Homo sapiens: one gene and its partner. The protein of the gene in region 2 interacts with the protein of the main gene of each other region in a pairwise test. Each region holds a gene or a part of one and is shown on either strand. Other genes may lie near its edges.

Region 1 (7,027 bases), on a different chromosome or scaffold from region 2:
CCAATTATCTCCCACCAAGACCCACCTCCAACACTGGGAATCACATTTCAACAAGAGATTTGAAGGGAACAAACATCTGACCCATACCAAAGAGTTTTATAATTTCAGATCTTACATTTAAGTCTTTAATCCATTTCTAGCTAATTTGTATGTGTGATATAACAATCAAATTTCATTCTTTTGCATGTGGATATAGTTTTCCCAATACCATTTACTGAATTATCCTTTCCCCATTGTGTACCTGGTGCCTTTATCAAAGCTTAGTTGACTGCACAGATGTGGCTACATTTCCGGGCTCCATTCTGTTCCATTAGTCTACATGTCTTTTATGCCAGTAACACACTGTTTTGATTACTATAGCTTTTTTTGAGACAGAGTCTCGCTCTGTTGCCCAGGATGGAGTGCAGTGGCATGATCTCAGCTCACTGCAACCTCCACTTCCTGGGTTCAAGCGATTCTCCCAACTCAGCCTCCTGAGTAGCTGGGACTACAGGCGTGTGCCAGCATGCCCTATAATTTTTGTATTTTTAGTAGAGATGAGGTTTCTCCACGCTGGCCAGGCTGGTCTTGAACTCCTGACCTCAGGTGATCTGGCTACCTAGGCCTCCCAAACTGCTGGGATAACAAGCATGAACCACCATGCCAGGCCTATAGCTTTGTAATATAGTTTGAAATCAGGAAGTATGATACCTCCAACTTTGTTCTTATTCAAAACTGCTTTGGCTATTCAAAGTATTTTGTGGTTTCCTATGAATTTTAGGGTTTTTCTATTTTTGTGAAAAATACCATTGGAATATTGATAGAGATTGCATTAAATCTGTAGATGGCTTTGTGTAGTATGGACATGTTAACAATATCAAATCTACCAATTCATGAGCACGGGATATCTTCCCATTTATTTGCATGTTCTTCAATTACTTTCATAAATGTCTTATAGTTTTTAGTGTACAGACCTTTCACCTCCTTGATTACATTTATTCCTAAGTATTCTATTCTTTCTGCTGTTATAAATGGAAATGTTTTCTTAATTTTTCAGATCGTTTGTAGTTAATATGTAGAAACACAACAGATTTTTGTATGTTGATCTTGTCTCCTACAACTTTACTAAATTCGTTAATTAATTCTAACAGTCTTTTGGTGGAGTCTTTAGGGTTTTGTATACATAAGGAATCATGTCATTTGCAAACAGAGACAATTTAACTTCTTCCAATTTTGATGCCTTTTGTTTATTTTTCTTTCCTAACTGGCTGGCTAGGACTTCTAGTACTTTGCAGTACTTGATTAAATAGAACTAGTGACACTGGGCACCACTGTCTTATTCCTGATCTTAGAGGAAAAGGTTTCAACTTTTCATGGTTGAGTATGATGTTAGTTGTAGGCTTGTCATATATGGCCTTTGAGACATCACTAACAAGAGAATAGCTAAAATTTTAAAACCTGACAAAACCAAATGCTGACAAAGATGAAGAACAACTGGATCTTTGCTGGTGGGAACGCAAAACGGTACCATCGTTTTTGGAAAAGAGTTTGGCAATTTGTATAAAACTAAACACACATTTACCATACGGTAATAATCCCACTATTAGATATTTATTGTCAAGGCAAAGAGAAGGCAATGTGATAGACCTGCCCAACTGCTTGTTAGGTTCAGAAAGCCTACCATTTACATGGAGGGCAGAAGGAATAGTAGTAAAAGATACAGCCCTTGTGTAAAGCAATACTAAAACAAAAGGAGCCAGGTGACTACAACATAGATATGACACTCTGTTGCGGAGGAGCCAATGCCATGCTGCAACTAAAGTCTTACAGCCTGCAGCTACTACCTAAAAGGGTACAATAGAGAGCCTCATCTCATGGGAACTAGGAGGTGATGAGGCACTGTTATCACGTACAGCCTCCTCGGCAGATGAAGAGATTGAGAAAGGGCTTCACATAAGGTCCTCGCAAACTTCCATAATCTTATATTCCAAGAGGATCACAAAGTGCTCGGCCAAGATTCAGATCAGATGCAGTTCAAGCACTGGCCTATGCAGCCTATGTGGATACATCCACTGTTACCAGGGTACAACAGTTGATCTTTTCCCTTAAATTTACCCAAAAGAGTGAAGACTTAGGTTGCACCAACACCTGTATACAAATGTTTACAGCCATATTCACCACTGCCTAAAACTAGAAACAATCCAGAAATCCATCAGTTGGTGAATGGATGAACAAATTATGATTCTTTCATACTCTAGAATATTACTCAGTAATAAGAAGGAACAAAGTACTGACAAAACACAATAACACTGATGATTTTCAAATGTATTAGGACTTCTAGTACCAAGAAGTCAAACACAAAAGGCTATATACTACATAATGCCCCTTATATGGCATTCTGGAAAAGGCAAAAACTAGAGGGACAGAAAATATATCAGTGTTTACCAAAGGCTAGTAGTGGAGGGACAGGACTGACTACAGAGGGTACAAGGAAAATTTTACATTGTGGTGGTTACATGACTATGTAAGTTTATTGTAATTCATAAACCTTTACACCTAAAAAGGGTGACTTGTACCATATATGTATTAAAACTCAATAAACCTGACTTTAAAAATCAAATGAGAAAAAATTCATGTTGTAAATGATTCAAAACAAAGCTGTTACCTCATCCAAATTTTCTACAAAGTATATTACTTAAGAAGAAAAAAGCAAAACTATGTTCCTTGCATGAATTATGCAAATATGAAAAGTACTGCAAAACTTTACAGAACATAAATGTCACCAAAAAATCAAATAGGAAAAAACTTGCAAGGTAAATTTACATGTAATTATATCCTACTTATAAAATAATTCAAGGCCAGGCATGGCGGCTGACAGGTGTAATCCCAGCACTTTGGGAAGCCAAGGCAGGAGAATTGCTTGAGCCCAGGTGTTCCAAGACCAGCCGGAGCAACATAGTGAGATCCCATTTCTAACAACAACAACAAAAAAAATTAGCTGGGCATGGTGGCACAAGCCTGTAGTCCCAGCTACTTTGGGAGCTGAAGTGTGAAGACTGTTTGAGCTTGGGAGTGCAAGCTGCAGTGACCCATAATCGTGCTACTACACTCCAGCCTGAGTGACAGAGTGAGACCCTGTCTCAAAAAATAAAATAAAATAAAGTAATAAAATAAAAATAATTCAGTGCATAGGCTCTTGCATATTCAAGTCTGTATTTCTTACATTCAGCAACTATTTAATGAGTGGCTAGTATATGGAGAACATCCTACGGCTAATGGGAAAATATAGAAATTTTTAAGAAATGACTCCATCTTCTAGGAGCTTCGTATCTGGAAGGAAACACAAAGTAAATGAAAAATCCAAAATAGAATGTGTTGCCCTACATGCTACCTCATGAATCCAATCTATTAACCAATCCCATAAAAATTCAACCATAAGCTATCAAAAGTCTACAACTAGGCCAGGCACGGTGGCTTACGCTGTAATCCCAGCACTTTGGGAGGCCGAGGCGGGCGGATCACCTAAGGTCAGGATCTCGAGACCAGCCTGGCCAATACGGTGAAACCCCGTCTCTACTAAAAATACAAAAATTAGCCAGGCGTGGTGGCGTGCACCTGTAATCCCAGCTACTCAGGAAGCTGAGACAGGAGAATTGCTTGAACCCAGGAGGCAGAGGTTGCAGTAAGCTGAGATCGCACCACTGTACTCCAGCCTGGGCGACAGAGACTCTGTCTCAAAAAAAAAAAAAATCTACAACTAGCCTAATGTAACTTTCAGAATATTCACAAGGTAGAGTCAAATGGTGTCTAGACTGGCTTTGTCTTCTCTATTGTTTTTTTCCCAGAATCTCTGGACAGTGAGTAGGGTGCTGCAAAATGGATTTGGGGTGGGTGTAAGCAAATCACAGCATATTCATCCACCAAATATATTTCATCCACCAAAAGATTACCTTACACACCCTGAAACTGCATACTATTAAATTCCCTGCATTTTAAAAGAAAAAGTAACACCAAAAGCACCTCATGCTCAAAAATATCTCTACTACATATTTTACACATAAGTAAACCAATTTGGTTTATATATTATTCTCTGGGTGAGAAAAGATGACTCTAAATAAAGTAAACCTATCATACATTCTCACATTACCCATACCAAGGTAAGAAGAAAAAGTAAATGAGGCTGGGCACGATGGCTCACACCTGTAATCCCAGCACTGTGGAAGGCCAAGGCGGGTGGATCACTTGAGGTCAGGAATTCGAGACCAGCCTGGCCAACATGGAGAAACCCTGTCTTTACTAAAAATACAAAAATTAGCTGGGTATGCTGACACATGCCTGTAGTCCCAACTACTCAGGAGGCTGAAGCAGGAGAATTGCTTGAACCCAGGAGCCGGAGGTTGTAGTGAGCGAAGATCACGCCACTGCACTCTAACCTGGGCAAAGGAGTGAGACTCCATCTCAAAAAAAAAAAAAAAGAAAGAAAAAAGAAAAGAAAAAATAAATGAACAGTTTATTAATTAATTATTTTGGTAAAGAGCAATTTTGAACCAGGAAGCTCTTCAAGGAAGGGTGAAATGAGGTGAGACTGGATTTCCTGGATCAATAACGGAAATTATGAGGTCACTTAAGTTCCTTGGACAAGAAGGTGTAGGAAGTGTACAAATGACAAAATGTTTAAAAGAGCAAGGGGCTCAAATATAAATTAGCCTGTTTTTGCAATCTTGTCAAAGGTCTTGAAGATGACTGATTTGTCACTGAAAATCTATTCACCAAATGTCTCTGCTGAGAGTTAGGGACTAATTTCTTGAGGAATGGTAAGCCTTGATCAATTTCAAATGAGTTGAGTCATCTTAATCTATGGGGAATTCAGTCTCCCAAATTCTACTCAGTCTCCTTACTCTCAACTGACCTCTTTCTCCTTCATTCTAGGTATTCTAAGATTCTCCCATTTGCAAGAACATACAGAACTCGACCTATAAATATAACCAACCTCCTCCCAATATAGTATATGACATCCATTTAAAAAAAAGTCAAGCCCAGCATCCTTAAAAGGTTCTTTTAAAGGTACAGAATATAGAACATAAACCCATTTCTACAAAAATATTGATATATAGTTGTGCATACAAAAAATATTTAAAAGTATGAGTACCAGATATATATTCAAGATGATCGGGCAATTTTCCATTTCTTTCATAATACCTACTTGTATTCTCCAATAATTTTTCAACAATGAGCATGTATTCTAATGATTTTTATTAAATAAAAATTTTAAATCTTTGTATCATTTTGGTAATTACTTTTGATGAAACTGACTGATAATATTCCCTTGTAAACCTCTCATGAAGTTTTTAGTGAACTCTGGGAGTATCCACATTGATTAAGAGAAGAAAAGGAAAGCTACTAATATGTCTCCTATTGTTCAAAAATATTTCAGGTAAAAATTTAAGGTAAGTTCTTAATTTCTTCTCTTTTGAATAAATCCATATTATGGGATGATTCTACTCTTAATCCAAACAATAAGATTTTACTATGCATCTATGTGAACTGTCACTCACAAAAATCAGTAACTTTTATCTAACAAAAAGAAAAACGTACATATCAACAAGTTGGCTTTTCAGATTTCAGGGAAGTAACAAATAGGGAGTTATTTCATCTACCAAAACATTAAGACAACTATATTGTAATAAAAATTCTTCTATTTGTAAAAACGTAGATTCCAAGTTAACCAAAACATTTTTAATTCCTGGACACCTTCAAACATATTAGGCATTATATGTGTAATTTTTGTTTTTTTGAGACAGAGTCTTGCTCTGTCGCCCAGGCTGGAGTGCAATGGCATGATCTTGGCTCACTGCAACCTCCGCTTCCCAGGTTCAAGTGATTCTCCCATCTCAGCCTCCCAAGTAGCTGGGACTACAGGCACACGCCACCATAGCCAGCTAATTTTTGTATTTTTAGTAGATACGCGGTTTCACCATGTTGGCCAGGATGGTCTGGATCTCCTGATCTCGTGATGTGCCTGCCTCGGCCTCCCAAAGTGCTGGGATTACAGGCGTGGGCCACCGTGCCCGGCCTAGGTGTGTATATTAATAAATGAAGAAAAACGCAGGTCTTACATGTATCTCAAAAAAAAGTCTCTACCAACTACTAAATCCTTTGTATAGGCAAGAAATAAAATTGATCTGATAAATATCAGCAAACTGTAGTTATACCTGTTTATCATATTTTAGAAAAAATATTGACTATCCCATTTTCTAGAGGTTAGAATAATGAAACTATCTAAATTTTTATTAAAAATGACTCTTAGGGGGCCAGGCACGGTGGCTCACGCCTGTAATCCTAGCACTTTGGGAGGCCGAGGTGGGTGGGTCATCTGGGGTCAGGAGTTTGAGACTAGCCTGGCCAACATGGCAAAACCCCATCTCTACCAAAAATACAAAAATTAGCTGGGCGTGTTGGCACGTGCCTGTAATCCCAGCTACTCGGGAGGCTGAGGCAGGACAATCACTTGAACCCGGGGGACGAAGGTTGCAGTGAGCTGAGATCGCGCCACTGCACTCCAGCCTGGGCGACAGAGTGAAACTCTGTGTCAAAAAAAAAAAAAAAAAAAGAACACTGAGCAAAAACACTTATTACACATGATAAACAGATTTTTTTCTACTTTATAGGCAAAAATTACATTTCCACACAATAAAATGAGTGTTGGGTTAGTTAACTCGAGCTAGTGGCTAAGACATGATGCTATAATAAGGCTAAATTGGCCAGGTGCGGTGGCTCACGCCTGTAATCCCAACACTTTGGGGAGGCCAAGGCAGGTCGATCATCTGAGGCCAGGAGTTCCAGACCAGCCTGGCCAAAATGGGGAAATCCCGTCTCTACTAAAAATACAAAAATTAGCCAGGCATGGTGGTACACACCTGTAGTCCCAGCTACTTGGAAGGCTGAGGCAGAAGAATCGCTTGAACCCAGGAGGCGGAGGTTGCAGTGAGCAGAGATCGAGATCGCGCCACTACACTCTAGCCTGGGCGACAGAGTGAGACTCTGTCTC
Region 2 (7,257 bases):
TACTGGTATGTCTTGTTAATGATTAGGCTTGTATGGCACATCAATTCCATTCTGCAAGAGCAGGAAAGATGAACAATGTGTTAGGCTTGAGTTTCTCAAACAAGGGGTTTTGAGAAACATAGGGCATTATTAATTTTATATTAAGGCAACCTATTAAGGATCTGAGGCAACTCCTTGTCTTGGGCTTGTTGTTAAAGGTTCAAACTCTTAATTAAATGCATGACCTTGTATAATGAGTTTAGTTTTCAAATTTAGAATCTCTCTCCTCTCCCAGATTGCTGGGAGGAACATATGGCCATGTATATAATGTGCCTGGCACAAAGGGAACACTCATTGAATGTCAGCTCTTCATTTGCTGGAGCCAATCCAACATGTAACATCAACAGTTGACTCAGATGTACTCTGGGATAAATTGTTGTGCAGTTGTCTGTCTTACTCAGGGCATGGGCACAGAGTGCAAAAAGGAGATTACTCTAGCTAAGAAAGCCCTAGCTAATCAAACAGTTACCATAGACCACGGTGTGTCAATCTCAACACTGTTGGCATTGGGAGCCAGATAATTCTTTGTGGTGGGGCTGTCCTGTGCATTGTAGGATGTTTAGCAGCATCCCTGGCTTCTACCCACAAGATTCCAGTAGCACCCCCATCCCCAGCTATAAAAACCAAAAATACCTCCAGACATTGCCAACTGTCTCCTGGGTGGGGGGTAAATCGCCTCCAGTTGAGAACACCAACTTAGATGATAACCTTCAGTCCTGGAGACCTGGTAGCTTGTCCTGAGAATCAAAGGAAAGAAGGTGAGTGAAAATGAAATTACCTGGTGGCTTGTAAAGTCCAAACCCTGGAATTCTCAGTGCTGCCTGCACTTTTCTATCATCTGGGGAGATTTCACCGTCCTGAGGCCCAGGCCAAACTCCAACACAGTTAATCAGAAACTTAGTGGGTAGGATGGAGGCAGCAGTGTGTTTTGAAATTTCCTGAGTGATTCCAGGAGACGCCAGGGTGGGGCCCCTCTGCTCTAAGCTGAGATGTAATTCTCAGGACTGGGTGGTAGACTTTGCCATTTGATGAGAGGGTCTGAGCCTATGTCTCTACATGTATGCACAGCATTAATTCACGTATAGCAAACACAGCATTTGCTGACGGCCCACCATGTGCCAGCCATGGCGCTGAGTGCTGGAGAAGCAAAGTTGACAAAGACCTGCCCTTGAAGGAATTATAATCTAATTGGAGAGAGTCTTGAAAAGCCCACTGAGAAGGGCCCTGATAGAGTTTGCACAGAGAAGATCATAGGTGAGGGTATTTGTGCAGAGTACATCAGATAAGCCTTTCTGAAAGACATGAATGTTTTCATTCATTCTTAAACAGCTGGAGCCTAGAATTTGCTGCTTCATTCGAGTATAAACTTTTGCTAAGAGTCTAAGAATTGGAGAAAAGGCTGAAATGTGAATGAACATGAAGCCCTCAAACGTCTGGAGGATTATCAGCAGAGAAACTTCCATCTCCTGTGCTACCAGCCCTGTCTGATAAATGAGCAATTTGATTGGCTATTAGAGCGTAAATCACTAATTCAGGCTACAGAGTATGGATGTATACAGTCTTTAACCCAGTGATCACATCTTAGATTTCTAGATGTTTTCAAAATGAACAATTGTTGTTGCCATTTGATGAGAGGGTCTGAGCCTATGTCTCTACATGTATGCACAGCATACATGTTGTTTTCCAACATTTTATTATTAGAAATTTCAAATACACAGAAAAGTTGAAAGAATTTCATGGAAAACATTCATGTTCCCATCACCTAGATTCTATCATTGACATCTGGCCATACTGTTGTTGCTTATCACATATCTAGCCATCTGTTTGTCCCTCTGTCTGTCTATGAATCCAAGCAGTGCATTTCTTTCAGTTAGTTCTTAATGACAGCAATAGAAGAGTGAGGGCTGCTTTGAAAATTGGTGTTATTTCTACATTTGTTATGAAGCATTATCCTTACTTGTCAGTCAATTCACATAGGGTGGAGTAGGGTGTTGGGGGTAGGAGGGGGTTACACCTCCAGTTATTAGAAACCAATTCTCTAAATTAAAGTACTTATTCTAATAACTCTTGAGAAATCTCCTTTAAATTTGCTTAAACATTTCCTGTGGTCTTTGTAGATAACCTCTAGTGGGAAAAAAAAAAAATTGAAGTGACCATGTTTGCCCTAAAGGCTTTGGTTAGTTCACAAAACCTGTTTCCGCAACCCAGAGTTGCTTCAAATAGACTTCCTCCCTTTACAAAGGCTTAATGATTTGTGTATTGAGTTGTTTCTTTCTGGGAGACATCTCACAAATACTCCAGTTGGGAAAAAGAGATAAATTGCTCCATCCAAAGTTTAAAAGAATTTCTTCAGGGTTTTGTAACTTGGACACTTGGTGTTCTGAAAAGAATGTCTTTGTGCCTATTTAAAATTGCAGAATCCTTTTCAGTTTGTTTCTAGGCTGTTATGCCAAAGAAGTAGCTCTGTAATCCCCATTTGTCTTCACCTGACATCAAATTCCACTTTGTGATGGAGAATTGTTCCTTGATTTGACATTCTTTTAAAGAAAAATGAGCCAGCATTGAATTCTTAGCTGAATACCAGTAGTTGGTGTATGTGTGTATGTGTTTCCAATTATAGACAGAACCTGGTATAGTACTTTCAGCTGAAATCTTTGATGAAGCATATGAAAATTACATTGATCCAGATGGGATAGAAAGCTGTAAGACTGGTTGCACAAAGCCCTCTGCAAGATTTGTCTTCTTTCTTAATGTTACACATCTTAAGCTCGAAAGAGAGAGAAACCTGAAGCAATCATGGCTTAAAATTCCCCAAGATGTCTCATTGGCTAATTTGGGTACCAAGTAGATTGTGGGGAAATGGGGACAGCTGGTGGTATTTAGTGTCAGTAATTAGGGATTCTCTTTAGGTTATAGAGAACTCTTAGATATAAAGGTGAGCTGCCTTGTCAGGGAAAGATGGCTTCCAACCCAGCTGTGGAAATAATCGGGCTGGGCACGATGGCTCAAGCCTGTAACCCCAGCACTTTAGGAGGCTGAGGCGGGCGGATCGCTTGAGCCCAGGAGTTGCAGACCAGCCTGGGCAACATAGTGAGACCTCATCTCTGCAAAAAATAAACAAAATTGGCCAGGAGCGGTGGTTCATGCCTGTAATCCTAGCACTTTGGGAGGCTGAGGCGGGCAGACTGACTGAGCTCAGGAGTTCGAGACCAGCCTGGGCAACACGGTGAAACCCTGTCTCTACTAAAATACAAAAAAAAAAAAAAAAAAATCAGCCAGGCGTGGCGGCGTGCGCCTATAGTCCCAGCTACTTGGGAGGCTGAGGCAGGAGAATTGCTTGAACCAGGGAGGCAGAGGTTGCAGGAAGCCGAGATCGTGCCACTGCACTCCAGCCTGGGGACAGAGTAAGACTCTGTCTCTAAAAATAAATAAATAAATAAAATAAAATTAGCTGGGCATGGTGGGACATGCCTGTAGTCCCAGCTACTTGGGAGGCTGTGGTGGGAGGATCCCTTGAGCGCGGGCAGTTGAGGCTACAGTGAGTAGTGATTACACCATTGCAGCCCAGCCTGGGTGACAGAGCAAGACCCTGTCAAAAAAAAAAAAAAAAAGAAAAAAGAAAAATGAAAGAAAAGAAATGACCACATCATGAGAAATCTAGACATAAAGTCTTTAACTTTGTATATCCACTGCAGAATCATGCAATGCCCAGTGTGAGGGAATGGAGTAGGATAGGAGAAAACTACCTGCCCCTGCTGGGAGTCAACAATTTTCTTAGATAAAACATAAAAGCACAATCCATTGATAAAAAGGATGCAGCTGGGCGTGTTGGAAGCACACAGGACATGGGAGGGAGCCTGGGCTCCACCCGCAGGGTGATGGCCATTCCACCCAAAGGGGCAGGAGTGGCTGGAACGAGCCTGGGGGCAAGGTCCTAGGCCCCGTTCACTTGGCCTCCATTCCTTAGGGCAGGGTCCCCTGGCACTCACCACTCCCGAGTCCTTGCTTCCTTCACCAGGATGAGGAGCTGGAATATCGTGGGGACAGAGGCCTCAGAGAGCCACCCAATGAGTCCACAGCAGCCATGGACAGTCCGTGAGGGGGAGGGTGTGCCTGCAGGGGGCGTGGCCCCATGCCGCCCGCCACCTGCATGCGCACTGGGCCGACCAATCAGCGAGGAGCGCGGGCAGCCGGGGCGGCTGCTGCTCTCGTGAGAACAGAGGACCCAGGCCCTCGGAGGAGCTTCGCGGTGCCAGCCTCTGCAGGTCCTCTGAGGGAGCAACATCAGGGCTCCCTCAGGTGAGACGCCCTCGGTGGGGATGCGGGGAAGGCGGGCCAGAGGCCCTTTGGGGAAGAGGGTGTGAAGGGCGGGGCAGCCAGGCTGATCTGTGAGGAAATGGCCCAGGCATTGTCGCCTGGGGCCTGGGTCAGGGCAGGGAGTTGGAGCTGCCTGAGTGGTCCCCAGGACCCAGGAGGGTCCCGGAGGCCTGTGCATGTGTGCAGCGTTTGGGGGGGGGTCGGGGGGTCAACGTGGGTCCGTCTTGTCTGGCTGCCCATCAGGACGGGATACTTGGGGTCACCAGGGGTCCCCTGGGCGTCCAGGCTGGCGAATGGGCAGTCCCTGCCCCTGTCAGAAACAGGTGCGTACCGGCTCATTCCCATGGAGATGGCTGGGGAGATCCTGTGTCACCCCGCGGCCCTCCCGACTCCACTGGGTCGCTGGGGAACCCAGGGGCAGGGCCAGGCTCTGTCCCAAGGGCACTGCAAGAATCCCGCAGAGGCCGCGGAATTCTGCGAGCTCTGCAGCCAGCCCCGGGGAAGCGCTGGACGGGCCAGGACAGGAGGGGATGATGGCATCTTCTCCGCGTCCCCTCCTGCTCCCACGGGAGACCCGGGGCGCCCTTGAACCTGCGATCCTGATGATTTTCATTTAACACGCCTCGTTTCCTTAGTGTCCTTAGTGTGTCTTTGCACTCACCAGGTTCAGAGGTCGCCTCTAGCTTCCCAGGCCAGTCAGCCACGGAGCCCGTGGGCAGGAAGGGCAGCAGGATGGCTGCCAAGGACCAGTTGGAGGTTCAAGTTATGGCCGCCCAGGAAATGGAGCTTGCAGGTAAACACAGCCCAAGGGGACCTAGAAGAAGGTGCACGCCCAACAGTCTGTCTGCTTTCTGGGCGGGGCGCACATGGGCAGCCCGAGGCCCCCGGCCCCTTCGTGGCTTTGGAGCTCACCGTGCATGTGCTGAGATGCCCCAGGTTTTCAAAGCAGGCTCAAGGGCCTTAGGCTTCCCGTGGGAGGCTCCCCCTCATAGCAGGGTTACAGATGCTCTCAGAGCAGCTCTTCTCCATGGATGCGGTCCTGACATCCAAGGGATCTGACCTGTGAACGTTGTTTACTGGGACTTGAACCCGAAGGGCTTCCAAAAATGCCTCCGTAAAATGGTTAGGAGCCGGCGATTCCATGTATAGCTCTGCGGTAAAGCTTTAATTGGCGGAGAGCCAAAAAAGTCTACAAATAGTACGTTTCTCTATGAAAAATGTCCACAACAGCGTCTTCCTCTAAAAAAGGTTTGTCTTTTTTATTTTAATGCAGGAAAGGATCCAGTAAGTCATGAGCATGAGGAAAGAAAACCTGTTACAGAGACAAAGGAGGGAGATGTAACTGATGAGCATGGGGAAAGAGGATCTTTTGCTGAAACAGATGAACACACGGGGTAAAGTGTTTAAGTCCCTTTTGCCTGTCAGATAAGGTCTTTTAGGAAAAGTCAGCTTTGGATCATGTCATCACTGTTATGTTCTATGCAGAACATTTCACACAAGACATTTCTTCCCAACAAACAAGGCCTTTTGTGTAGCATTATGTTAAAATTGTGTTGCAACTTTTTGTTACAGGGTTGATACCAAGGAGCTAGAAGATATTGCAGGTATGTTTTACGAGCTATTTGTGGTTTATGAAAATTGTTTTCAACCATACAACCCTTACAGTAGGTTATATGAATTAGTGGATGACAAGACTGTCTTAAATGCCTTCTTCTCATATATAGCATTTAATGTAATCTGTTTAATAATTTTTCTTACTTACTTTTTTAATTGTTGATGTGGAATGTGAGAATGCTTCTAATAATGGTGAAGCAAGAGGGGTGGCTTTTCTTTCATACACGTGGAAATTTAATTGTTTGGGGGATATTAGAGGACATTGGAGGAGAAACAGCTCTATTCGTTCCTTTCAGTGTACACACATTAAGTCATATATCAGGTTTTTTTTTAGCTTTTACTTTATGTTTGGGGGTACATGTGCAGGTTCGTTATATAGATAAATTGCGTGTCACAGGGGTTTGGTATACAGATTATTTTGTCACCCAGATTATAAGCATCGTACCTGATGGGTGGTTTTCCATCCTCACCTTCCTCCTACCCTCCAACCTCAAGTAGGCCCAGGTGTGTGTTGTTCACCTCTTCCTGTCCGTATGTACTCAGTTTTTAATATGAGTTTTTCATCTTCCTAATTTAGCTATTGTCACAACTTTCTAATTTTGTTTTCTTTAAAGTACCAGAGAAAATTGAATTCTCTAAAATGATGATTTTCTATTATTATTCCAGTAACAAGCTGTGTAGTAGAAAAGGAAAGACAACTTTTCTACCCAGTGAGAAGCATACAATTGGATCCAAAAACTCATAAACTTTATATTGCCATGTGAAATATTAGTTGCACTGTTATGGGACCATATTTTCAAAAAAGTTTGAGAAAATTTCTGTAGAGATTATGAAGACAATACTCTTATTTTTAAAAAGCTTACTTTAGTTTTCAGCTCTTCTATAGCGATAATTCATATAAGCAGTATATTTGGAAAGCTTTGCTCTGCTTGGTGGTGACAAAGTGCCGGTTTTGTCTAATACAATGAGCATTATAGATGGATACTGTATGTAAAAAAATTTGTATTATGGTGCAGCTCTTTTATGATTGCTCAAAACTATTCTCAGCAATTGATGGTAGATCTCTCATGTGAAACCATGTTTAGGAAAGCATTCCTTGCAGTATTACAGTTTTCTGAAACACTGCACTGTGGATAAAAATGTCATATAAAAAGCTCTCAGAAAATATTTCAAATGTGTTTTGAATGTATTTATCTATTTAAACCTAAATGTTTACACCCATGGACATTGCTTCTTTTATTAAAATATAGTTAATAGCATCAACTATTGATTAAAAATACTTTCTTT

What was found. Proteins that work in one complex are often made in the same cells at the same time.
Region 1: the proteins of FAM9C (region 2) and ABI2 interact in binary tests that used the Homo sapiens proteins (3 or more experiments, as listed by UniProt).

The regions. Positions count from the first base shown.
Region 1 is NC_000002.12:203,331,371-203,338,397, reverse strand, and holds part of ABI2 (abl interactor 2), read right to left. Parts: intron 1-7,027. UniProt on the Homo sapiens protein: Regulator of actin cytoskeleton dynamics underlying cell motility and adhesion. Functions as a component of the WAVE complex, which activates actin nucleating machinery Arp2/3 to drive lamellipodia formation.
Region 2 is NC_000023.11:13,041,621-13,048,877, reverse strand, and holds the start of FAM9C (protein FAM9C), read left to right. Parts: upstream 1-4,257; 5' UTR 4,258-4,338; exon of another isoform or gene 4,339-4,435; coding exon of another isoform or gene 4,436-4,679; intron 4,680-5,020; coding exon of another isoform or gene 5,021-5,088; coding exon 5,089-5,149; intron 5,150-5,629; coding exon 5,630-5,750; intron 5,751-5,928; coding exon 5,929-5,960; intron 5,961-7,257.